7 linked regions of the Homo sapiens genome follow. The protein of the gene in region 1 interacts with the protein of each later gene in a biochemical or structural test. Each region holds a gene or a part of one and is shown in the gene's direction. Other genes may lie near its edges.

Region 1 (3,500 bases):
TCTTTAGAGCAAAATGGAAAAAAATGGTTTTTCTGTTCTGGTGCAGGATCCAGCGGAGGCTCACGTGCTGTATTGGATTATCACATCCTTAATGTTCTTTAATCTGAAATCGTTCCCAAGTCTTGTTATTCATGACCCTGACTGACATTTTTTAAGAGTAAAAACACTAGGGGGGATTTTTTGTTGTTTTTTGTTTCGTTTTGTTTTTTGTTTCGTTTTGTTTTTTGTCTTTTGTTTTTTTTTGAGCCAGGGTCTCACTCTGTCACCCAGGCTGGAGTGCAATGGTGCGATCTCAGTTCACTGGAACCTCCACCTCCCAGGCTCAAGTGATCCTCCCACCTCAGCCTCCCAAGGAGCTGGGACTACAGGCTACAGCCAACATGCCCAGCTAATTTTTGTATTTTTTGTAGAGACAGGATTTCGCCATGTTGCCCAGGCTGGTCTCAAACTCATCCAATCCGCCCACCTTCACCTTGACCTCCCAAAGTGGTGGGACTACAGGCGTGAGCCACTGCACCCGGCCAAAGACCCATTCTTTTATAAAATGTCCCTCCCTCAATTTGGATTTATCTGATGTTTTCTCATAATTCGATTTAGGTTCTGCATTTGGGGCAGGAATAGCAATGAAGTAATGATGTGTCCTCTGTGTATCATGCAAGGAGGTTTACAAAGTCTACTTGTGCCGTTACTTATGATGCTAATTTTAATCACATGGTTAAGGTGTCTGCAGCCTTATGCTTTCCCAGTTTCCCTGGTTTACTAACCATTCCATTAATGAATTTACAAAGTAAGCAAAATGTATATTTCCCAAGTCAGTTCCTGACTGTTTTCTCCTAAAATAAATCCTTGCGTGCTGTTGTCAACCTAAACTATGAAATGCTCTAAAATAAATCCTTGCGTGCTGTTGTCAACCTAAACTATGAAATGCTCTGGGATTCTGTCCTGTGCTGTTGGGGTGCATCAAGATGCCAAACCCACGAACCAAGTATTTTGTCAAATGAACTGAGTCTTCAGGGACATTGAGGCATGTCTGCATTTAGCTCAAAAGGTAGAAGTCTCACAAAACTGATACTAGCGAATATCATGTTACTGAAAATTCTTGGTTATTCAGGCGTTCCTAGCTATGTATAAGTGCTTCCTACCTACATACAACGTCTTTCTTCTATGCACATCATCTCAGGTACCAAATAGACAGTATTATTTAAAATCCCCCTTTGACATTTTATGCTCAGTTTTTCAGACCATGGAAATCTACACCTATGATGCTCTTCCAAGATCACTGGGCATTTTTTTGTAGTTTAGTAAGTGACTTATTTAATTTGCAATTCTCAATTATTTCATTTATATGTAAACTTTTTTACGAGACACAAGGTTCCACTCTGTCACCCAGGCAAATGGTACAATCCAATGGTACGATCATAGCTCACTGCAGTTGTGAACTCCTGGGCTCAAGAGATCATCCTCCTGTCTCAGCCTCCCAAGTAGCCAGGATTACAGACACACACCACCATGCCCAGCTATTTTTTTTTTTTTTTAAATACACAGGGTCTCACTATGTTCCCCAGGCTGATCTCAAACTCCTAGCCTCAAGCAACCCTCCCACTTCAGCCTCCCAAAGTGCTAGGATTGCAGGCATGAGCCACCATGCCCAACCATAAACATTTTCTTTCTTTCTTAAAAAGTTAGTTACTCATGCTTAGTGCTGTCTAGCGATACTTTGTTTTTGTTTGTTTGTTTGCTTTATTAACTAATCCCTCACAGACCTCAGGGGCTTCAGCTATTCCCAAAGAATTAGTTGTTAGTAATTGTTACTCTTTTTTTCACACATTATTTCAGACAGCAAATAAACATTGATTGTTAAGTCTCTAACCACTAACAAGCTAGCTTAGGTATCTCTCAATTCACCTACACTACAGTACCTGACATGCTAGCTTAACTGAAAAAAGTAGTATCAATCTGTAATCAGCTCTTTTCCCCCAAGATCCTACCCCAAAAAAAAAAAAAATTATCCTTACATCATCCTGTCTATGGGATTGTACCCAGTTTCCTTTTTTCTACATATGTTTATGGAGAAATCAGGAAAGTTAAGAAAATAATTTGTTTTAAAATAATAAAGCTAATATATGCTCAGATGGTAAAAGAACAAAAGAAAAGATCTCCAAGTCTTACTTTTTGATCCATTTTTAAGATAAAAATTTTATACTATATAAATAGGAAAATTAATGAAGTGAGCCTTTTTTCCTAAGTGAACAGTGTGTAAATGGTGATTCTTCCTGGATGAGTAACTTTTTCAAAGATACTAGCTTCTACTATTTCATCAATAATTGTAATGGCAAAAATAGACAATTAATGGAGATTTCTGATTTTGTTTCTATCATTACAGCTATTGTACAGGGGGATACGCTGGAAGACATTTACAACCAAGTGAAACAGATCATAGAAGAACAATCTGGTTCTTACATCTGGGTTCCGGCAAAAGAAAAGCTATGAAAACTCATGTTTCTCTGTTTCTCTTTTCCACAATTCCATTTTCTTTGGCATCTCTTTGCCCTTTCCTCTGGAGTCTTTCTTGAGTACTGATTTCATGTTGAATTGTATCCCACACATCATGGTCTGCAGCTTCTTTTTCACATGTAGTGTCTCCTTCAAGTTACATCGTGTGTATTATTTAATGTCACTATTGGTTAGTGGCCATTTTTCAGAACTGAAGATGGAATGGCCTGACCAGCTATTAAGAACGTGGGGAGACGCAGAAATTGTGGTAAAATTCCTTAATGTTTAAGGGAAAGTAACTTTAAGAGATTTTTGGAAAAGCTTTATATACATTCTTTTCAAATTTCAGTACAAATGAAAAAGTGGTTTTAATCAGTGATTTAGTAGACTTTGAGCAACTGTGCACGCTTCAGTTTAATAGCATGGTTTGGCCAGTGTATTACTCTCAAGTCCTTTTCTCAATCAACTTCTATCATCAAAGCAATTGTTTCATTATAGATAAATAAGGACATTTTTTAATTTAAAAATTCATGTCTGAGTTGACTTTCATAAGGGATTTCATTTTTTCCTCAACATTCTTAAAGCCTTTTAGTATTTGACGGTTCTTTTTTCCCAGGACATTTGCTAGGAATAACAACGTTTCAATGTTTTTAATCTACTTGAGCAACACTATCGTGTCTTACAAAAGTTGTTCATATGTAAATGATCATCACATTTCGTGAATTGAGGCCATGTTCAGGTGCTAAGGAAGTTCGCCTTTTACACAGAAGATTGAGAAAATTTCCTAGATATAAATACAGATAAATCAGACGTTACAGTGGTGACGTAGTAACCATCATGGCAATGGAAAGGAGTCCAATTCATAGCCTAAAACTTCAAATGTATTCTTAGGAGTCAGATTTTACTGAATATTTTACCCACAATAGCTGCCTATTTTGTTATAATAAAATATATATAAATATATATATAAAACTTTCTTTAAACTGTAACTATGGGAATTATTTTCT
Region 2 (3,500 bases), on another chromosome or scaffold:
AAGTCTCAAACATGACTGTTACTCACTCTTCTGTGGCTCTACCCTTAGCAAGCCTGTACTACTGCAGTCGCCTCCTTATTGATCTCCCTGTTTCTATTTTTCCCTCTTTTCAATCCATATCTGCATAGCTAAAATCCTTCAAAGTTTTCCTGTGGCCTTAGAATAAAATAAAGCTCAAGCTCTTCACCTGGTGCCTGGCTGTCTCTGCAGTGCCACCTTCTACCACCCACTCTCTTCCTCAACTCTAGCTCCACTGGCCTTTGTTGGTTCTTTAAATACAACAAGCTCTTTCCTGCCTTTGGCCTTCACACATGTGATTCCTCTGCTCCATGGGCATTTTCCTGCACTCTTTGCTTGGTTAATTCCTATTTCTTCTTCAGGCCTCTGCTGAGGTGTCCTTTTCTCAGACTTTCTAGAACCGCTAAGTTTAAAGTGGTAGCCCTTACTCCATGGGTGTCTCTCATAGTTTGCTGTTCTGCCCTTCCATCATGCCTGCAATCGGTCGTTTATACTTATCTGCTTACTTGTTTGGTGTGCCCCTTCCCTGCTAGACTGTAAACTCAGGGTCTGTTATACCACTTTATACCTAGCAGAATACATGGTTCATAGAAGGTGCTCAAACAAGATTTGATGCGTCAATGACTGAAGATAGGAAGTAAGCGCTCGGTGGATGGTGATGGCTGTTAGGGGAGTCAGGGTCAGCAGGGAAGATAACATTGGGTCTAGAGTAGGTGGGGGCTCCTATGAGGGGGTGGGGCCGGGCTCTGAAGAATGAGCAGGATTTGGGTGGGGGTTAGAGAGAGGAGAGGTCATTCTCCTCTGCAGAATCAGAAGGTGAAGTATGGTTGAAGATAAGCCTATAAATAGGCAGATAAACTTGTGCCTTGCCTGTTTCAGAACTTCAGGCAAGTAGAAACTTGTCTTCTCCTCCCATCCCCTACCATATTATCCATAGTTTCCACCCCTCACCCTCACCTGGGGCTGTGCATATGTGTGGCAACCTCAAGGAAGCTGCCAGCCTGATCTTACCGGTAACACTGGGTGTGTTTGAAGTAAATGCTGGGGAGATGGTATCAAGGGAAGCAGCCCACTGTGGGCACACTCAGAAAGTATGAGTGAGGGGAGGAGGTGTAGCATGGGGAGAAGAGGCCTGGGGTAGCCCCTGGACAGAAGCCCGCTCCTTTCTGCTCTCTGAGGTGTCCACTGATTCAGCCTGTTGGCCTGGCCAGAACCTGCCCTCTTCATGCCTCGGTTTCCCTGGCTGAGAATAGGGAAGCAATGCCCTGCTCCTCCCTTCCAGAGGGCTTGGGGTTGGGTCATTCTGGGTGAGCCTTCCTGCCCTGGGAGCCTTTGCTGGCCATCTTCCCCCATGCCTGAGTCCTTGGCACAGCCTGGCAGGGCTCTTTCTAGAGAAGGGTAGGAGGAACTGGGCCCAGTGGACAGCAGGAACCTGGGTGGAGATATTCTCAGGCTATGGCTGGGCTCATTTGAGCCTCCTGTGGCTGTTGTGTGCAGATGGTCTTCCTCTGCCCTGACCCCACAGGGAGCTCGAGCCGCCTCTAACTAGCTTCTTCCTCTCACCAGGAGCGTCGCTGGATTTTCTCTGAGACAAGCCCACCCGTCCAGCAAAATAGAGTCCCTCAGGGTGACAGTTGACTTCCTGAAGGTGCCTCTTGGCCTAAAGAAGCCGGTGCTGAAGGAGGTGGCTGTGGGGCCCCCCAAGAGGCCCCAGCCTGCGGCCCTGGAGCGCTACAAGGCGCGGCGTTCAGACGCCATGGACACCGAGTCCCAGTACTCGGGCTATTCCTACAAGTCGGGCCACTCCCGCAGCTCCCGCAAGCACAGGTGGGCAGGCATGCAGGGTGACATGCGTGGCGGAGGGAGGGTTGGGGGCTGTTAAGAGGTGGGCACGTGCAGGGGTGGTAGGGTAGAGTGGCTGCTGAGAAGACCCTGGTCCACCACTGGACTTTCTGTGCCTTTTCTGGCTTCCTGCCGCAGGGACCGCCGGGACCGACACCGCTCTAAGAGTCGAGATGGGGGCCGAGGGGACAAGTCGGTGACAATCCAGGCTCCCGGGGAGCCCCTGCTGGACAATGAGTCCACACGAGGGGATGAGCGGGTGAGCACTGGGGATGCGGTGGTCCAGACCGGGCATTTTCAGACTGCTCCTGAGGGGCTGGAGGCTCCACGGAGTGGGGGAGGGCTTGGAAACCTGGTCTCAGACAGCCATCAGATCGGGGAGTGTGTTTTGTGTTACACTTAGCTTGGCTTAGTGTCTTAAGGTAGGACCTTCAGGAATTTCAGTATAGAGATCCCTCTGGAAGCAGCAGCCTCTCCTTCCTTATCTCCAGAGGAGTGGGGGGTGACCTGGGCTGTATGATGGGAATTGGCCAGCTCCTCTGGAGCTGCCGCCAGCCAGTCAGGCCCGCTGGGAGTCTGGAGCAGGAGGGTGGTGGTGGTGGCTGGGCCTGGGGTATGTGTGAGCAAAGCTGAGTATTCCTGGAGCCTCGAGATGTGGGCACTCTGTGCCCTCTGGTGTCAGCCTGTAGAATGGCGTCACCTAGATCTTGGGAAAGGAGTATGGGAAGAGTAGATGGAGAAAGCCCAAGGGACAAGAAGTAAGGCTGAGGGATGGAGCAGGGACCCCAGGAGAGAGTTCTCCAGGACAGGGGTGAGCAGGTTTTCTATTCTAACCTCTGCTGCCCACTGTGCTCACCTGGTAGGGAGGACAGTGGGCAGAACACAGTCCTGGAATAGGGCAGAGGCAGGATTTTAGGTGACACTGAGGTTGCCCAAGTCTCATTCCCCTTGGGATCATCTTTGGGGGCTGGAGATTCCCAGCTCCTTTTTCCTCAGAAGAAATCTCTGTGGCTGACATTGGGAATTCCTGGGCCTTGGGAGCAGGTCAATACCTGAAGGAAATGTTCTTTTTCCCTCTCTCCCAATCCCTTCTTCCTGGGGCCTGGCCTCCTGAGTTCTTGAAGTGACCCTGAGACATGACCAGCTCACCTGCTACTGGGGAGGAGATCCCAAGCCCTTGGTCCTTGGAGGGGGTGGGCAGTATGTCTAGGGGTCAGAGGGCGGGGAGCAGACCCAGGGCTTTGAGCTGAAGGCAGTCAGTGCATCTGCTTTCTATCTTCACATCAGACTCGTTCCCCATCCTGTAGAGAGGAGGTTCCTCAACCTCCCTAATCACTGGTGCTGTCGGGCTGCCTTCATCCTGTAACCTCAACCTCCTGGGTGTCAGGTTGTGATTCCATATCCCCAGGCTGTCCCAGGAGCGAAGGGTGGGTGCTGAAGGCAGCTGGTGGTCTTGGGACTCCTCCGTGGGATGGCCTCCAGCCACTGCAGAGAAACAGCTTGAGCAGACCACACTTAGAGGGACACCTGGGGACCTCAGCCTGGCCACCTTCTTGCCTCCAGAGACAGGTAGCCTCTGCACTGTAGACATTTAGATGGCCCAGCAGAGGTGGCCTTGCAGACCAGAGACCCAGAGTGGC
Region 3 (3,500 bases), on another chromosome or scaffold:
AAGTATCTATTCTTGTCCTTTGCCCACTTTTTAATGGGGTTGTTTGTGTTTTTTCTTGTAAATTTGTTAAATTCCTTATAGATGCTGGATATTAGACCTTTGTCAGATGCATAGTTTGCAAATATTTTCTCCCATTCTGTAGGCTGTTTACTTTGTTGATAGTTTCTTTTGCTGTGCGGAAGCTCTTTAGTTTCATTAGATTCCATTTGTCAACTTTTGCTTTTATTGTGATTGCTTTTGGCATCTTTATCATGAAATCTTTGCCAGTTCCTATGTCCAGAATGGTACTGCCTAGGTTGTCTTCCAGGGTTTTTACAGATTTGGGTTATACATTTAGGTCTCTAATCCATCTTGAATTGATTTTTGTATATGGTGTAAGGAAGGGATCCAGTTTCAGTCATCTGCATATAGCTAGCTAATTATCCCAGCACCATTTGTTGAATAAGGAATTCTTTCCCTATTGCTTGCTTTTGTTGAAGATCAGAGGGTTGTAGGTGTGCACCCTTATTTCTGGGCGCTCTATTCTGTTCCACTTGTCTATGTGTGTCTGTTTTTGTACCAGTACCATGCTGTTTTGGTTACTGTGGGCCTGTAGTATAGTTTGAAGTCTGGTAACATGATGCCTCCAGCTTTGTTCTTTTTGCTTAGGATTGCCTTGGCTATTCTTTTTGGTTCCATATGAATTTTTAAATAGTTTTTTTCTAGTTCTGGGAATGTCATTGGTAGTTTGATAGGAATGGCATTGAATCTATAAATTGCTTTGGGCAGTATGGCCATTTTCACGATATTGATTGTTCCTATCCATGAGCATGGAATGTGTTTCCATTTGTTTATGTCATCTCTAATTTCTTCGAGCAGTATTTTGTAATTCTCATTGTACAGATCTTTCACCTCCCTGGGTAGCCATATTCCTAGGTATTTTATTCTTTTTGTGGCTATTGTGAATGGGATTGCATTCCTGATTTGGCTGTTGGCCTGGCTGTTGTTAGTGTATAGGAATGCTAGTGATTTTTGTATGCTGATTTTGTATCCTGAAACTTTATCAAAGTTGTTTATCAGCTGAAGGAGCTTTTGGGTCGAGACTATGGGGTTTTTACTTTTTAGAATTCTATTTTATGTCCTGTGATTGCATATTAGCTATAATTGTTTGTTTTGTTATGTAACTAGTTATTTTACATCTTTATGTCTACCTTCAAATGATTGTATGCTGCTTCATGTACAGGATAAGAACCTTATAGTAGTATACTCCCATTTGTCCCCTCCTACCCTTTATGCTGTTGTTGTCATCCATTTTACTTTTACATATGTTATAAACCCCACAATATATTGTTTTTGTTTTTGTTTAAACAGTTATCTTTTAAGGATAATGATAATAATGCCTTAGTCTCCTACAGAAGCACTTGCCAATCCACTCCCTGCCAACTTCTCTGGCCTCATATTCGACTGTCCTCACTGCACCCATTGATCCAGGCATACTAACCTCTAACAACTTATCACTGTGCCCTTCCTCCCTTCCTTCTCTTACTCCCCCTACCCACTTTCCTATTGAGTTAAGTTGATCCTTTTCTGAACTTCCATTGTAATACTTTGTGTCCACATTGTTATTTTAGCTTTTGTCAACCTCTAGTGCAGGGATCCCCAACCCATGGGCCGTGGATCAGCACTGGTCCATGGCCTGTTAGGAACGGGGCTGCACAGCAGGAGGTGAGCAGCGGGCTAGTGAGCATTATCGCCTGAGCTCCGTCTCCTGTCGGATCAGCGGTGGCATTAGATTCTCACAGGAGCGTGAACCCTGTTGTGAATTGCGCATGTGAGGAATCTAGGTTGTATGTTCCTTATGAGGGTCTAATGCCTGATAATCTGAGGTGAAACAGTTTCATCCTGAAACCATCCCCCTACCTCTGCCCTGGTCCATGGAACAGTTGTCTTCCATGAAACCAGTCCCTGGTGCCGAAAAGGTTGGGGACCTCTGCTCTAGTATAATGGCGATTTTTCTGTGTGGTATCTCTCACAGGTCATGGGCTGCTCATGGACAGGAACTTCTTCCAATTATACCCAGAATCCCAGCAATAGAAGGCTCTCAGTACATAAGGAGTATAGAAAAGTTCAATGGAAGTATTCTGAGAATTTGGTTCAATGACGTTAATGCCTTTTGTTGTCTCACTTGGACTCATATATAGCTATGTATATTCTTGTCATTCCAGTGGAATGGCACTTTGGGAAAACATGAAGATGTGGTATCTTTGTGATAGAAGTGAGCTTCTTAACACTAATGGGAATTAAATATGTCACGCACTTAATAGATATTGACAAAAAATTAAAACTGATAAGGGGATAAGGAATTTGAAATAAGTCTTTTTCCATTTCATTGATGTGGTTCTAGGTTTTGTCTTCTGTAAAAAGAGTTTCCTTTGGAGATGCATTAGGAGACAATCTTTAGTTTTCATTAGTTTTAAGTAGCAGTAATTCATGAAACAGTAGCCCAGGGTTTTCAGAGTTTAATTAATGTTTTGAATATGATTAATTTATCACCCAGGGAAAATGTTAACTACCTAGGAAAAATGACAGAATATAACTTCTTATGAGGCCCTTTACTTAAAACCTCATTAAGTAGCAAATCAGAATTTTGTTTTAAAAAATTGAAATTTATTAGAAGACTATGCATCTCTCTATATTGAAAGTCATAATTGATATAATCCTATAAAATACAAAATTCCTGGAAAACTGGAATCACAAATATATATTTGGAAAACTCGTGTTAAGTTTTATGGAAGCACAAGTCTATGGCAGTAGTTGCTACTTTGGCCTTTTTCTTTCAGTGAAAGATGTCATGTATATCTGCCCATTTATGGGAGCAGTGAGTGGAACCCTGACAGTGACGGACTTTAAGCTGTACTTCAAAAATGTCGAGAGGGTGAGTTTTTTAAAGTGTGTTTTATTTTAAAAGAAACACTTTTAAAAGAACACTAAAAGAAGAAAGTAAAAAGTCCCCTGAAATCCCATTACCCTGAGATAACCACAGGTTGGATTTTGAGATGCACACATTTGCAAACAGATGTTTGTATCTTGAAAACAAAGGCTGTTAAAGTACCGCTTAAACCTGGAGGGGAAATTCCATTGTTGTCTCAATATATATTTCACAAGGAATGCTGTCAATCAGACTTCAATTTAGCTGGGACAAAGAGGAAATGCGAAGTAAACAAACATGTTTTGTAACCCAGCAAAGACTTAAAATATGAAAACTGTTGACTGACACTAATAGGCATTGATCTTAATTTTTGAACCTAGGACCCGCATTTTATCCTTGATGTTCCCCTTGGAGTGATCAGCAGAGTGGAGAAGATTGGAGCACAGAGCCATGGAGACAATTCCTGTGGTATAGAGATAGTGTGCAAGGTATAATAGAAACGCCAAGTGAAAACTAAAAGAGGGCAATCAGCTCTGAACTTTTTCTCCCTCAGTCTCTTCATGGTCTTTGGACAGTAGAATAATTTGTACTG
Region 4 (3,500 bases), on another chromosome or scaffold:
AGAGATGAGGACCTGGGGGGCATGGGAGTGCAGGGAAACCTGTGGGCATGGATGGAATACTTTTCTGTTTGGGGGACACAGGCAGAACTGACGGAATTTTTCCCTTGGGGTCCCTATCTGCCCCCAGCTGGAGTGCTCCTCCCACCCTAAACCCAGCCCCCTGTCCTATTCCTAGGCACTGCCCTGAGGGTTATGAGTGCATCAAGACCGGGCGGAACCCCAACTATGGCTACACCAGCTATGACACCTTCAGCTGGGCCTTCTTGGCTCTCTTCCGCCTCATGACACAGGACTATTGGGAGAACCTCTTCCAGCTGGTACAGCTGCCCCCACCCTGCCCCCCAACCCTACAGCCACTCCCCCTCCATCCCTGCAGCCTCTTCAGGGCCTGATGGGGCCTACCACAGGATGGCCAACCCCCGAACTGGGCCATCTCCTCATGGACTCCCGCAGTGCCCTTATAGGAGCTTGTGCTCTCTGAAACTAGACACCTGCCCCGAGCCAAGCCACAGCTTTAATTCTTTCCACACCTTTGCTTTCAGAGCCAAGGTCTGGACCTAGCATAGGCACAAGCCCAGGACCCCCTAGGCCTCATGATAGCCAGTAGGGCAGCTTAGAAATCCAATGCTGCCTGCCGGGCGCGGTGGCTCACGCCTGAAATCCCAGCACTTTGGGAGGCAGAGGTGGGCGGATCACGAGGTCAGGAGTTCGAGACCAGCCTGGCCAACATAGTGAAACCCCATCTCTACTAAAAATACAAAAATTAGCCGGGTATGGTGGCACGGGCCTATATTCCCAGCTACTCAGGAGGCTGAGGAGGGAGAATTGCTTGAACCCGGGAGGCGGAGGTGGCAGTGAGCCGAGACCACGCCATTGCACTCCAGCCTGGGCGACAGAGCGAGACTCCGTCTGAAAAAAAAGAAAGACAGAAATTCGATGTTGCCCATACTTTATTTGCCTTCTACTGTTTGCAGGGAAGGCAGGCTGAGCCTGGAGTGACAGTGCCTTCTGATGCCATGTGATGTTTCTAACATTGATGGTGTTGATAACAATAACAAAAATAATAACAGCTACTGGCTGGGTGCAGTGGCTCATGCCTATAATCCTAGCACTATGGGAGGCCGAGGCAGGCAGATCACTTGAGGTCAGAAGTTTGAGACCAGCCTGGCCAGCATGGCGAAACCCATCTCTACAAAAAATACAAAAATTAGCCAGGTTTGGTGGCAAACACCTGTAATCCCAGCTACTCAGGAGACTGAGGAAGGAGAATCACTTCAACCTGGGAGGTGGAGGTTGCAGTGAGCCGAGATCACACCGCTGCACTCCAGCCTGGGCAACAGAGTGAGACTACGTCTAAAAATAAATAAATAAATTGATTAAATAATAATAATAGCTACTATTTGTTGAGTTCTTACTAGGTGCCAGGCACTGTGGCAAAGCTAGAATTCAAGCTGACCCCAAACCCATGTTCACCAATTTTCTATCCTGGCTCTCTGATAACAGGATGCCTGGCTTCGGTCCTCCTCTGAGCCAGGAGACCAGAAACGTTTGAGTCCCAAGTAGATATTTTGAAGTTCCCCAGAACATGGCTCAGCATGCCAATGACGGCCATCAGTCCCCCAGGCTCTGTGAGGGAGGGGCTCTGCTTACCCATGCGGGCAATGGATGTATGGAAAGGGGCACTGGGTCAAAGGAGGTGGACGTCATGGGACCCCTCCACTCCCTCTCCCTCCACTCCCAGACCCTTCGAGCAGCTGGCAAGACCTACATGATCTTCTTCGTGGTCATCATCTTCCTGGGCTCTTTCTACCTCATCAATCTGATCCTGGCCGTGGTGGCCATGGCATATGCCGAGCAGAATGAGGCCACCCTGGCCGAGGATAAGGAGAAAGAGGAGGAGTTTCAGCAGATGCTTGAGAAGTTCAAAAAGCACCAGGAGGAGCTGGAGAAGGTCTGGACTCAGGGAAAGGAGATAGAGGACCCAGGGTTCTACCTGCCCTCAGCCGGGGCTGCCACTGGCTTCTCCCTGGGGGGCCGAGGGTGAGGGAGGGTACAGGGGTAGGGGTTTTGAGGCAGAAGGAGCAGAAGGCCCTGGGCTGGGAGCTTTGCTGGTGGCAGGGGGATGGAGGGATCCAAGCAGTAGAAAAAGCATTTCTCTGCTCTGTGCCTCAGTTTCCCTGTCTATAACAAGGAATCTGGAGTAGCTAAACCTGAAGTATTCTTCCAGCTCAAATATTTCTGATTTTGTGATGCTTTCTGGGTAGTGGATAGGTCCATACTGAGGGAAGGGCAGGTCCTGATGAGGCCACAGGGAGCGGCTGACCAGTTTCTCATTCTGTCAACAAGTGGAGGGTTAGTCAGGGCATCAGAGTCAAGGGTCTTCAGGGCAGAGGGTCTTTAGTCACTTTGGTCCCTACCCTGTCACCCCCACCACCATGGAGGTTGGTCCCTCCCCCACCTGCACTAAGTTTGACACAGGCCAGGAAGAGGGGCTGCCACCCTGAAGGACTCTGGAAGAAGCTCTGAGGGTCAATTAGTCCATCCCTCTGGCTCAGAGCTGGACTTCCTGCCAGTCACTCTTGCTGGTCTACAGGCCAAGGCCGCCCAAGCTCTGGAAGGTGGGGAGGCAGATGGGGACCCAGCCCATGGCAAAGACTGCAATGGCAGCCTGGACACATCGCAAGGGGAGAAGGGAGCCCCGAGGCAGAGCAGCAGCGGAGACAGCGGCATCTCCGACGCCATGGAAGGTGAGTGCCTTGTGCCCCCGTGCCCACTTAGGTAGGGGTGGAGCCTGGCTGGACTGGATTCAGGAGGATAGGGATGCCATGGAAGGTGAGTGCCCTGTGCCCCCTCTACCCATTCAGGCCCCTGAGGTCAGGGTGGGGCCTGGCTGGACCAGCTTCAGGACAGTAACTTAATATTGGCATAGAAGAAATGGCTATATTTATACTATATTTATCACAGCCATTTCTGGCTGTCACAAATATAGTCCTGTCTTAACCTGGCCCAGTTCTAGCTGCAAGGCCAGGCTGCTATGGGAACTGGGGGCTTCCGGGAGGGCCTTGGGGACTGCCCAATGGGAAGCACAGGCTAATAATACTAACCAGAAGGCCCAATGTTCCGGAAACTGGACATCCTGCTCCTCAAGTGTTCTCTGGGTAAAAGTTAAAGGCCAAAAGTCAAATTCTGCCCAAACAGAGTGACAGACTCCCCAATCCCTGTGCCACATGCTGAATCTCAGAAGAATAAGGATGTCATGATGAGAGAGGGTGAATAGACACGACACGACAGATGGATGGACAGATGGATGGACGGACGGATGGATGGATGGATGGATGGATGAGAGGGAGGGAAGTAGGGAGGCAGGAGGGAAGGAGGAAGCACAGGAAAAAGGGACAATAGAGAAAAGGAATTCTGACACACAGAGATGTGGTTCCCTCCCCAGGTCGGCTTGCCTTGTGCCAGGGAGTTGGGGGCCCTGCAGGACTTTGCAGATCTCT
Region 5 (3,500 bases), on another chromosome or scaffold:
TATTTTTTGGACCATTTATTAGTTCTTAAGATGGTAATGCCAGGCTTAATTTTTGTAGTAGATGGAAAATATTAATTTGTTTTTTTGGGCACTTGTTTTCCTCTTCTGAAAGAAATAAAGAAAAGAAAGAGAGAAAAGAAAGAAAGAGAAAGAGAGACAAAGAGAAAGAAAGGAAGGAAGGAAAGGAAGGAAGACAAGAAAAGAAAAAGAGAGAAAGAGAAGAAGAGGGAGGGAAGGAAGGAGGGAGGAAGGGAGGGAGGGAGGAAGGAAGGAAGGAAGGAAGGGAAAGAGAGGGAACGGGAGGCCAGGTGAGGCTTTTTTCTCCCTCTTTCAGGGGATCGTGAAAATTTTTATTTGTCATTTATTTTTGTTTACCTATTACTCTACTGTCTCTTTATACTTTAACATTGGATGAGATCGTCTAAGTGAACTAGTCCAGTGTCCCATCCGATGTTGAATGAATCTCTTCTGCCTTGTCTCACCAGTTTGCACACTCCTGAGCCAGGGAGCTTACACCCTTCTCAGGCAGTCCATTGCATCTTTGCTCGGCTTTCTCTCTCGGAGCTCTTGCTCCCTCGTGAACAGTACCAGGTGAATGCTTTTTATCAGCTGCAGGGCCACCATTGCAGATATAGGGGGCTACCACCCACATGCAATTTAGTACTGTTGAATTACATGGTATATTCATGATGTCTTTCATGTAAATAGCACCCCTATGGTCGCAGCCATGCTCTGGTGAGGCTCAGAACACAGAATTTTTTCTAGAAGAACAATAGAGCAAGGAAGAGAACCATAGAGCAGCTTCCTCCCAGGACCACAGGGGAGGATGGGCCACACAGCTCCCAAGGTTGCCTCTGCCCACCGCACTTTTGCATCCTGGTGACTGTCTTACACAGCCAAAAGGCACTGTGCTGGCAGATCTGAGTTCAAGCCCTGGCTCTGCCTCTGTTTTGCCTTGTGACCTTAGAAAAGTCTAGTCCTTCATACCCTAAACCAGGGGTTGACAAATCTTTTCTGCAGAGGTGCAGACAGTAAATATTTTGGGCTTTTCAGGCTATATAGTTTTTGTTGCAACCACTTAACTCTGCCATTGCAGTACAAAAGCAGCCTAAAGGAATGTGCATGACTGTCACCCAGAAAACATCATTTACAAAAACAGGTGGCAGGCCAGATTAAGCTCACAGGCTGCATACTTTGACAGTCCTTGTCCTAAGCTGTAAAAGAGAAATGACAATACCATCCCTGGCTATCTCATAAGACCATTATGATGATCAAATTAGTTTTCTTTGAAATCTATCAAGTGCTATACAAATGTCAGTTATTTTCTGTAAGTAATATTTTTTGTCAATCACAGTGCTAAATCCTTAACTTAGCAAAATGTGAACCGCAAAGACACTCTAGGAGAAAACTGAAATTTAGAGACAATATCAGTTAGGATGCTTACAAGAGCACGTAATAGAAAACTAGCTTAAATAATACAGGATTTTATTAGTCCATGTGACTGCAAAGTTCAGAGGTGGGAGAGAATTCAAGGCATGTTTGATCAAGGGCTCAAAACAAAACAAAACAAAACAAAACAACATTTCTTCCCATCTCTCACCCTGCCTTCCATGGCATTAGCCACATCCTATGGCTGGCTTCTCTTGTAGTCACAGCCTGGTTGCTATCCTTGAGCTAATGGCCAGAGAGAGAGAGAGATCTTCTCAGCATTCATAGCAGAAGTCTTGAGATTTATTCTGATTGGACTGGCTTAGATCACGTGCCCACCCGTGAGCCAAATCCTCTAGCTCTGTAAAGAAGGAATGTGCCAATTGGCTTAAGGCAGTCAAGGCCCACCCCTGGGAATGAGATCAGCTTGCCACATGGCACATGTGCAGCCTGGGGAAGAGTAGACACTGAGGTGAAAACCATGCTGTTTTTAGGGAAGGGGAGTATTGCAGGGGGTGGTAACAATAAATGTTCACCGCAGAGAACGAAGCCCCTGAGTTATGCCACCTTCCTTGTCCTAAGAAACTGCACAGAACTTTCTATCCCACTGTAAGCTGTCCAAGCTTTTCAAACTGACATTTCCTGTTTAAGAAAAGGCCAATTTGAGCTCACTGTCAAATACCTCAGTGTATTTAAAGTATATATGTACCTTCCTTTTACACAATCAATATGTTTTCCAAAAGTGCTTATGAATTAAAAATTTGTAACTCATATAATAAATATACTGGAAGACTCAGTATTTTTTTTAAATAGCAAAATTTCTGTAAAGCAAAGAATCTTATAGCAAAAGTAGTATTTCTTCCAAATTGTCCTAATCTATCTGTAGTAATGAGTTCTGTTTCTTACAATCATGTTTTAAATGCTTGGATATTGACAAATTTCCAGACAACCAATACTCCATGGATTTTAAAAGGTCTAAGTGGTTCTTGACAGGTGGCCTCTAGACCAGCAGCATCAGAATCCCTTGGTGACTTGTTGGAAATGCATGTTCTCAGACCCCGTCACAGATGAGGGTGGGGGCCCAGCAAGCTCTGGTGTAACAAAGTTGCCAGGTGATTCCGATGCAAGTTCAAGAACCACTCATTACACTAATGAAATAATACAGGAATAGGAATTGGAGAAGGTTATCTATCTAAAGCCCAGTCTTTTAACCCCTAAAATTCTTGAAATAATTTGTCCTTTTGTCCCTTTGAATGCTTCCTGTCTTATGTATACAAAGTATTTCTTTTTCAATAAATTGATCTCTCTTCAGTTTATAGAATGAAGGGCAGGCTATCTGTAAGTGAGGATTGTACTTTTTTTTGACTTGCTGTATAGTTCTCCAATTTGTGAAATCATCAAATTAAGTGAAAATAACATAAAAACTCCCTCAATGTTTTCATCCATGTTTAATGCCTCTAAACAAACTGAAACATTTTACCAGTTATCAGAGATTAACTCATTAAATATCTACTTTTAATTCCCTGAAAGTAAAGTATATTTGGGTCTTTTGCAGAAGAAAGAGCATATGAGAATACACCATGAATATTGTTTTGCTCTCAAGTTAGTAGTGTTGTTGGCAAGAAGAGAATCTTTGGGATTTCTTTGGCACTAGAAGTAGAGGAAGCCCATTTGGACAGATTATGTTCAATAGGAATGTTGTTAGAATTCACATAAGCAACCACAACTTTCATACTGAAAAGCTCATTTCCAATATGTTCTTTGAAGCTTAAATGTGACCATTTGTCTTGAGTATAACATTTAAACCTTGAGAGTGCTGATTTCTCCATTGTTTTGTAAAGTTACACCCAGGAGGTTTATGTTTAAAGTTCTTGCAAAAGGCATGTTGCAAAATTAAAAAACAGAAATTAATGTGTATATATTTTTTATTTCAAAGATCTTTATGAATACACTAAGATATCTGCAAACTCATGAATATCTCCTAGATGTGGATTTATGGAGACTTTTTGCAAACCTGGAGGAGTTAACTCAGGTGAGCCAAGTAGGAAGATTCATGTTTTAACATTCACTAG
Region 6 (3,500 bases), on another chromosome or scaffold:
ATGTAGTTTCAGGGGTGTGTTGGGCTGAGCTCCAAAAGAAACTGGATAGGATCCCAGGTCTGGTGTATCAGCAATTTCCAGGCACTCAGGAGAGGAAGAGATCTTGAGTCAACCATCCAGCCTGCTCCTTAAAGGGCGAGCCTGTTAGTGTCCATTGGTGGGGACCCATAAGTCATCAGTGGCCACGTGAATCTGGACTTGGAACTCTGACTCCTTTCCAAAGAACTTTGTACCACCTCTGCTGTTTTCCTGGTTTCTAGCTGGTGGGGATGCTGTGCCCAGGGAGTGGGTCCAACTCAGGTCAGGACTAGACCTGCTTGGATTGCCTAAAAACCTGTGTCTTCCCCATGGAGAGAAGCCATGTTCTGTTCATTCTTCAATCTCTATGACAGTGGCAGCTATGTGACGTGCCAGGTTTTAATGCATTCATTATCCCATTTACACCTTACCAATTATCCAGAGAGGATAGGTATTATCCCCAGTTTAGAGACAAAGGGTCATAGATTAAAGAAGCTATCCAAGATCACATCAGGTAGTAAGCATGGAGCTCTGGAACTTAACCAAGAGCTCCGCTGTCTGACGCCCAAGCCCAGGTTGTTAACCACTGCACCACTTTGCCACCAGGAAGGCTGCTCTGTACGCATGGAAGTTTGGGAGGTTTCGAGGAGGTGATGCAGATGGACATTTTATCTCTAGAGGAAGAGAGGAAAGAGGGAATTTTTTCCTTCCTGTCTTTACCTGAAATACTTACTTTCTCATATTGATCACTATTGAAATGGAGTCAGACAAGGCCTTGCATCTCATGCTACGCAATCAGTTTTGGGTTTCAGCCCAGCTCTACCACTGACTAGCTCTGACTTGGACAAGTTATTAAATGCATCTGAGCCTCAAGTTGCCCATCCGTAAAATGGGAATAATGTTACCTACCTCACAGATTTTGTGAAATTGGTATGATGTAGGCACATCTAAAGGGTTAAGCCCCCAGAGGCCAGCCATAGTAGATGCTGATAAAAATACCAGTTGTTATTACCGTATGTAAAATCTTGTGTAATTTTCTTTCAAGTGACTGAACTGGCCTTTGCTTAAACACTTGACTTCTCAGGAAACAAAAAGCTAACTCCGGGTGTGGGGTAAATTGAGAATTGCCTGTGGCTGGCCCCTGTCCCACGCACCCTTCCCTGTTAGGGATCTGGCTGAGAGTTTCCATTCCGTTCTTATTCCAGGGCAGGAAATGGAAACACAGGAAGCAGATGGTTGGCATGGGAAAGGCTCCCAAAGACACAGCCACTGTCACCCAGCCCCTTGTTTCCCTCTCAGTCTCTAAGGGCTCCCATTTTTCCAACCATCACTAGCTTTTCTGCCACCTTCAGAGCCCTGTAAATGCTGTGACTGCCAGAGTCTAACCAGCGGTTCATTTTAGTTTTGCCTCAAGGTGGATGGTCTCTGGTTCCCCCTTGACTAGAAATCTGGGGTGTGGGTAGCCTCCCAAAAGGATGGCTCTGTAAGCGGGTCTCACCAGCACCTTCAACAAACCCCCGTGTGAAGAAGGTCAGAGGCGGGGAAGCCCCTCTGCTTGTGGCCTGACAACATTTTTTATCTAAAGATTCTGAGTAGGTAGTGGTTATTTTCATTTCTAAAAAGCATACTTTTTTGTGGAGGTGGAGGTGCATTTTAACATCTCTAAAACCTGGGTGCATCTTAGGATCAACAGTGTCTTAGGTTTGATGAAATACACCATATAGGCTAGGCTTGGTAGCTCATGCCTATAATCCCAGCACTTCAGGAGGCTGAGGTAGGAAGATCGCTTGAGGCCAGGAGTTGAAGACCATTCTGGGCAACATAGCAAGAACTCATCTCTACCAAAAAAATTATAAAATTAGCCAGGCATGGTGGTACATGCCTGTAGGCCCAGCTACTCGGGAGACTGAGACGGTAGGATCTCTTCAGCGTAGGAATTCAAGATTACAGTGAGCTATGATTGTGCCGCTGCACTGCAGCCTGGGTGACGGAGCAAGACTCTGTCTTTCCAAAAAGGAAAAAAAAAATACACTATGTAAAATGTCAAGGCTGTAAAGGAGGACACACACCATGTTGAGTCCTGGTCCATTTTATCTGTAAAGAAAGCAAGACTGTCCCAAGGCATAGGAGATTGCCCTGGTACTCTCAGGGCAGCTGTAACTTCAACACAGGCCTGTCAATTTTTCCCATATTACCACATGGCTTCTCATCCTTGTCAGCGCAGGAAGGCTGTCGGCATATCCTGCCTCCTGGATATGTGCAAAAAAGTGAACTCTTTGCTGTGTGGATTTTGCTGTCATTGAGTCACAAGGCAGTCACATAAGGTAGAGAGTTGGCCAGGATGGAGATACAACCACACTTGGTTGAACTGCCCTGGCTCTGAACTCCACTTGGAAACCAGAAAGGGAACCACCCATCTTAAGAAACAAATAGGTCGGAGTTGTTTTTTCCTCTCTCAAATGAACAAGCTAATCCAATATTTCCTGATTGTCCTTTGTCCCTGCATCCAGGGTGGCCCAGTTGAAATCCTTCCCTTCCTCTACCTTGGAAGTGCCTACCATGCATCCAAGTGCGAGTTCCTCGCCAACCTGCACATCACAGCCCTGCTGAATGTCTCCCGACGGACCTCCGAGGCCTGCGCGACCCACCTACACTACAAATGGATCCCTGTGGAAGACAGCCACACGGCTGACATTAGCTCCCACTTTCAAGAAGCAATAGACTTCATTGGTAGGTTTAGCCATTCCCCTTCAGTTATTTTGGGAGCCCCTTTGGGGCATGTGTTCTTGACTTTTGATGCCCTGATGGAAGCTACCTTCACTGAAAGAAAAGTGTCTTGTATATGCCGCTGCTGAGAGTTGGAGCCAACATGGGATGCAGCTACCAAAAAGGTGGAAGGGAGGATTTAAGTTGCTATGAATAGGAGCTTTAATTTGCAAGATAAATGAATTAATATAATTTTATGGCAGTACTCACTGTCGATCTTGTTATTGTTTCTAGCTGGGCAGGAGCTGAGTGTATCCCTGCGTAATGCTCCACACAAGGAAAGCAGGGGGAAGAACCTCCCTAACTGTGCTTCTACGTAGGTTGGGTTTATTTTTAAAAGCAAACAGAAGGATTCAGAGAGCACTACTTACGCACTGAGCCCCAAGGGCCCCCAGCAGCTTTCCATACTCTTGGTGAACGGCTTGGGGCAATTTGTTTTGCATTTTCAGCTAATTTTGGATTAAAGATAGCACTTGACTCAAGCTCCATGCTGTATGCACAGAAAAGTTGGCATCTTTTGCCTGCTTTCTGCATTCTTGTTACGCAGTTATTTATTCCATTGCATAGACCTGAAAACCGAGGCCTTGGCCTCTGGTCCCTCTGCCAGGAAAGGGCTGTGGCCTTAGGGTTTCCAGGTCCTCTGTGTTGCCTGGATTGTTCTCCCATTTGGCATCTTCTCCTCCCCCATCCATCTTCCTAGGAGGCTGGCCTGACTT
Region 7 (3,500 bases), on another chromosome or scaffold:
CTGCGCCTCCGCCCACAGTGGCACCGCCCCTCGCCCCCGTAGCTGAGCAGGAGTCTGAGTCCTGCAGGAAGGCGCGGCGGCCACAGCAGCCCCAGGGAGGCCGTGAGAGGACGCGTGAGGGCCCGGGGCAGACCACCCCAGGCTCTTCAACACAACAGATGAGAACGAAGTCCTTGTTCCAGGCGACTCACTGAGGAAATGCTCCGATAGACTCGGAGAGGGCTGGACACAGAGTGGACCCCACTCTCTTGGCTTCTCTCGCGGATCTGGGTTTGCAACAATGGCTCGTCGGAACTGTGTAGAGCGTTCAGGTTTATTTTAGACCCTGGGTCAATGTCTTGGAGGAAAAGCCATTGACTCTCGTGGAAGAATCCTGGGGACAAGAATCTGGGGCGTCGCTCACGCCCTGTTAAAACTTCAGTTCTTCTACCCACATGGGGCATTCTCCACCTCCCAGCAGCAGATAACTCACTGGATAACCTGATGTCGGGATTTGGCCGGGAAAACATGCTTTTCTGTGACTTTGGAGCTGTTTGCACGTGGCAGGAAGTGGGCGCCTACTAAACCAGCAAACGTGGGACAACCAGCCTGGCACCGCCCGAGCCACGCCAGAGCCCCCATGCATCGTCTCCTGATGGCAAGCACTCCAGTAGCCAGAACACCAAGGAGGGACGTGCGAATGTCCACAGTTGGCCGGGCTGTCCCTGGGCTGATCTCTGGGGGAAGCAGGAGCCCCAGCTGGAGCTCGGACCGGACACTCACCCCACGACTGTTGCAGGAGGCAACTGACGCTTCGGGCTCTGGGGCACTCAGGAGAATCTGGACAGAGGCCCACCCAGCTCACCTCTTTACAGAGGGGCAGAGTGAGGGTGGGGCTCTCCTGGGCCCTGACTCCCCCGAAAACCCTCAGGGGCCTCTGTCCAGGGTGGGCCTCAGAGCCAAGCCTGAACCACAGGGCGCTGTCTCTCTGTGGGGTCCTGGTGTCCAGGAAGAAATGGGCAGATTCTAAACACTCCCCGGAAAGCAAAGTGTCTGCTGTCACTCCAGCTCTGCGGCCCCACAGCGACGCCCGCTCCTCTCCCAGGTGCCTTCGCCCTCGCACAGGTCCAGGCTCCTCGTCCCGGGATGCAGGGCCCCTCCGGTGCCCGCCTGGCCAGTGCTGTTCGAACCCTGGGGCAGGGGCCCTATTTCGGGCTTTGACTGTCAGCCAGTCCCTTGGCTCCCCAGAGCACCCTCTGTCCACGGTGGACACTCTCTAGCCAGCCAGGGCCTCGTCTTGGCTGGACGGACAAGAAGTGTGGCCTCAGGAGGGAAGCAGGAGCTCTCGGGCCCGCTGGCTGCCTGCATCCCGACACAGGTGACACTGCCTCTGCCCATGGCCCTTCCTGCACAGGAGGGTCCCTCTCCACTTCCCGCCTCACTCAGCCGGAGCCATCCCAGAGGCCCGGCCGGCTGCCTCCTCCTGCCCCGATGCCCAGGGCAGCATCCATGGCGTGGTCAGAGTGGCTGGAGCCTGGCACAGGTGCAGCGATCACCAGGGGGCTGGGGAGGGGCCAGGCGGCTGCAGCCCTCACCCCTGCTGGCACCCACCCACAGGGTTCTTACCGGAACATGGCACCCACCCTGCTCGCCTGCCTGAGGTTCATAACTAAACCCTACACAGTGGGGCCCTGAAGCACAGACATGTTTCCCACAGTCTGGAGGCTGGAAGCCTGAGACAGAGCTGAGTGCAGGCTGGTGCCCCGAGGCCCCCTCCTGGGCCTGTGCACGCATGTTTCTGGGCTGATGCCCCTGAAGCCCCCTCCCCAGCCTGTGCACCCCTCTGTGCTTCCCCGGTGAGCTCACCTCACTCACCTGATGAAGAAAAGATGAAGCTCCATCAGCTCCAAGCCTTTCCAGCTGGGTCGATTTTCCCCCAGTCTACTCTGCCACAGAGAACACACATTCCCCTTTGAACTCTGACCCTGAACCCTTTTCTTGGGCCGAGAAGCAGGTGGAGTTTGCGGCCTCCGGTCCAGGTCTGTTGGTGCCGAACAGTCTCCACTCTTTCTCCACCTCTCGCAGAAGCTCGTACAGAATCCTCCCGGAAGATGTTGACAAGCAGGGTTTCGATGAGTGTGGGGCTCCCAGTGCAGGGCTGGGGCCATCCCATGGTTTCCCTGCCTCTCTGTAAGGCCCATCCAGATCCCACCTGGCCACCCGCAGGCCACGGGAAGAGAGGAGGCTGGAGGCAGGCATCAGTCGGCCGATACATGGCCCCAGGAGCCAGCCTCAGAGCCACACAAGGATGCCTTTGGCCAGCAGAGCCAGTGGAGGGCGAGGACAGACAGCACTCCGTGGCCACGTGGGGCCCCTCCCGTGCACTCCCTGAGCATCCACAGACGCAGCCTGACCGTACCTCCCCAGGCAGCCCCCCTTCCCTGAGACCCCACACGAAAATGCCTGGAGCGGCTGCAGGGGAAGCCGAGCCCCAAGGGTAGGCTCAGGCGACGGCGCCGCCCACACAGACCCACCAGCCAGTCACACACGTCTCCTTTGCTTTATCCTCAGGATCTGAAGACAGTGCTCTCCCTGCCCCGCTACCCAGGGGAGTTCCTGCACCCCGTGGTGTACGCGTGCACGGCCGTCATGCTGCTCTGCCTCCTGGCCTCCTTCGTCACCTACATCGTGCACCAGAGGTGAGCCTGGCATGGGCAAGGGCGCCCCCTGTGCCCAAGAAACCTGCTTTTACCTTCAAAGGCAAGTCCCTGAAGGGCAATGCCACTGCCCCCTCATGTAGCAAGAAGTCCTTGAAGGTACAACTCAGGTCACCAGCTAGCTCAGACCCGCTCAGCAGCCTGGTGCCCATCACACAGCCGAAGGGTGGATGGAGCTCAGGGAAGCCGCGCCTGTCCACTCAGGCCTCCGTCAGGGTCTTCTCCACGGCATCCCCCGTGTCCTTAACTGGGCAAAATAAGTTCTTCCAGAAATAGGTGTGGTGTCCGTCCAGGCACCCTGAGGAGCTCAGTTCCCCCGGGCAGTCACTATGGCCTGCAGAGCCTGGGAGAGGCACCAAGAACATGAGGGTGTCCAGCCGCAGTCAGGGTGGGCATGCCCACAGCCAGTCATGGGCGGGGGTTCGGCTATGTCTGAGGCCAAGGTCGCCTCGGTCACGGACAGAGCTTAGAGGCGCCCAGGGCCACAGTCTCATCAGAGACTCGGGCACACACGAGGCTGTGATCACAGGAAGAGGCTTGGGCGGTTCCGAAACTGTCATCTTGGTCTGTTTGGGCTGCTGCAGCAGAACACGGGGGCCTCGATGGTTTATCGACAGGAGAAACTGACTTCTCAGTTCTGGAGGCCGAGGTCCCAGATCAAGGCACCCATGACGCTGTGTCTGGTGCGTCTGGAGAGGGCCAGCTCCAGGCTCACAGACGGCACCCACTGCCTGTGTCCCTGCCTGTGTCCCTGCATGTGGAGGGTGAGGCACTCTGGGGGCCTCTTTCTCAAGGTCCCTGATC

What was found.
Region 2: the proteins of DLG1 (region 1) and VANGL2 interact in a surface display test, tested with the Homo sapiens proteins (one large-scale study listed by IntAct).
Region 3: the proteins of DLG1 (region 1) and MTMR1 interact in a test that uses a peptide from one of them, tested with the Homo sapiens proteins (2 studies listed by IntAct, with this or other methods).
Region 4: the proteins of DLG1 (region 1) and SCN4A interact in a test that uses a peptide from one of them, tested with the Homo sapiens proteins (one large-scale study listed by IntAct).
Region 5: the proteins of DLG1 (region 1) and PLEKHG7 interact in a test that uses a peptide from one of them, tested with the Homo sapiens proteins (one large-scale study listed by IntAct).
Region 6: the proteins of DLG1 (region 1) and DUSP5 interact in a test that uses a peptide from one of them, tested with the Homo sapiens proteins (one large-scale study listed by IntAct).
Region 7: the proteins of DLG1 (region 1) and ADGRA1 interact in a test that uses a peptide from one of them, tested with the Homo sapiens proteins (one large-scale study listed by IntAct).

What each region holds. Positions count from the first base shown.
Region 1 is NC_000003.12:197,043,613-197,047,112, reverse strand, and holds part of DLG1 (disks large homolog 1), read left to right. Parts: intron 1-2,383; coding exon 2,384-2,490; 3' UTR 2,491-3,500. UniProt on the Homo sapiens protein: Essential multidomain scaffolding protein required for normal development. Recruits channels, receptors and signaling molecules to discrete plasma membrane domains in polarized cells.
Region 2 is NC_000001.11:160,414,064-160,417,563, forward strand, and holds part of VANGL2 (vang-like protein 2), read left to right. Parts: intron 1-1,584; 5' UTR 1,585-1,774; coding exon 1,775-1,845; intron 1,846-1,998; coding exon 1,999-2,119; intron 2,120-3,500. UniProt on the Homo sapiens protein: Involved in the control of early morphogenesis and patterning of both axial midline structures and the development of neural plate. Plays a role in the regulation of planar cell polarity, particularly in the orientation of stereociliary bundles in the cochlea.
Region 3 is NC_000023.11:150,724,396-150,727,895, forward strand, and holds part of MTMR1 (phosphatidylinositol-3-phosphate phosphatase MTMR1), read left to right. Parts: intron 1-2,819; coding exon 2,820-2,914; intron 2,915-3,288; coding exon 3,289-3,396; intron 3,397-3,500. UniProt on the Homo sapiens protein: Lipid phosphatase that specifically dephosphorylates the D-3 position of phosphatidylinositol 3-phosphate, generating phosphatidylinositol. Could also dephosphorylate phosphatidylinositol 3,5-bisphosphate to produce phosphatidylinositol 5-phosphate.
Region 4 is NC_000017.11:63,962,919-63,966,418, reverse strand, and holds part of SCN4A (sodium channel protein type 4 subunit alpha), read left to right. Parts: intron 1-175; coding exon 176-317; intron 318-1,741; coding exon 1,742-1,951; intron 1,952-2,210; exon of another isoform or gene 2,211-2,335; intron 2,336-2,593; coding exon 2,594-2,747; intron 2,748-3,104; exon of another isoform or gene 3,105-3,154; intron 3,155-3,500. UniProt on the Homo sapiens protein: Pore-forming subunit of Nav1.4, a voltage-gated sodium (Nav) channel that directly mediates the depolarizing phase of action potentials in excitable membranes.
Region 5 is NC_000012.12:92,737,489-92,740,988, forward strand, and holds part of PLEKHG7 (pleckstrin homology domain-containing family G member 7), read left to right. Parts: coding exon 1-33; intron 34-3,364; coding exon 3,365-3,460; intron 3,461-3,500.
Region 6 is NC_000010.11:110,504,407-110,507,906, forward strand, and holds part of DUSP5 (dual specificity protein phosphatase 5), read left to right. Parts: intron 1-2,528; coding exon 2,529-2,748; intron 2,749-3,500. UniProt on the Homo sapiens protein: Dual specificity protein phosphatase; active with phosphotyrosine, phosphoserine and phosphothreonine residues. The highest relative activity is toward ERK1.
Region 7 is NC_000010.11:133,094,424-133,097,923, forward strand, and holds part of ADGRA1 (adhesion G protein-coupled receptor A1), read left to right. Parts: intron 1-2,550; coding exon 2,551-2,678; intron 2,679-3,500.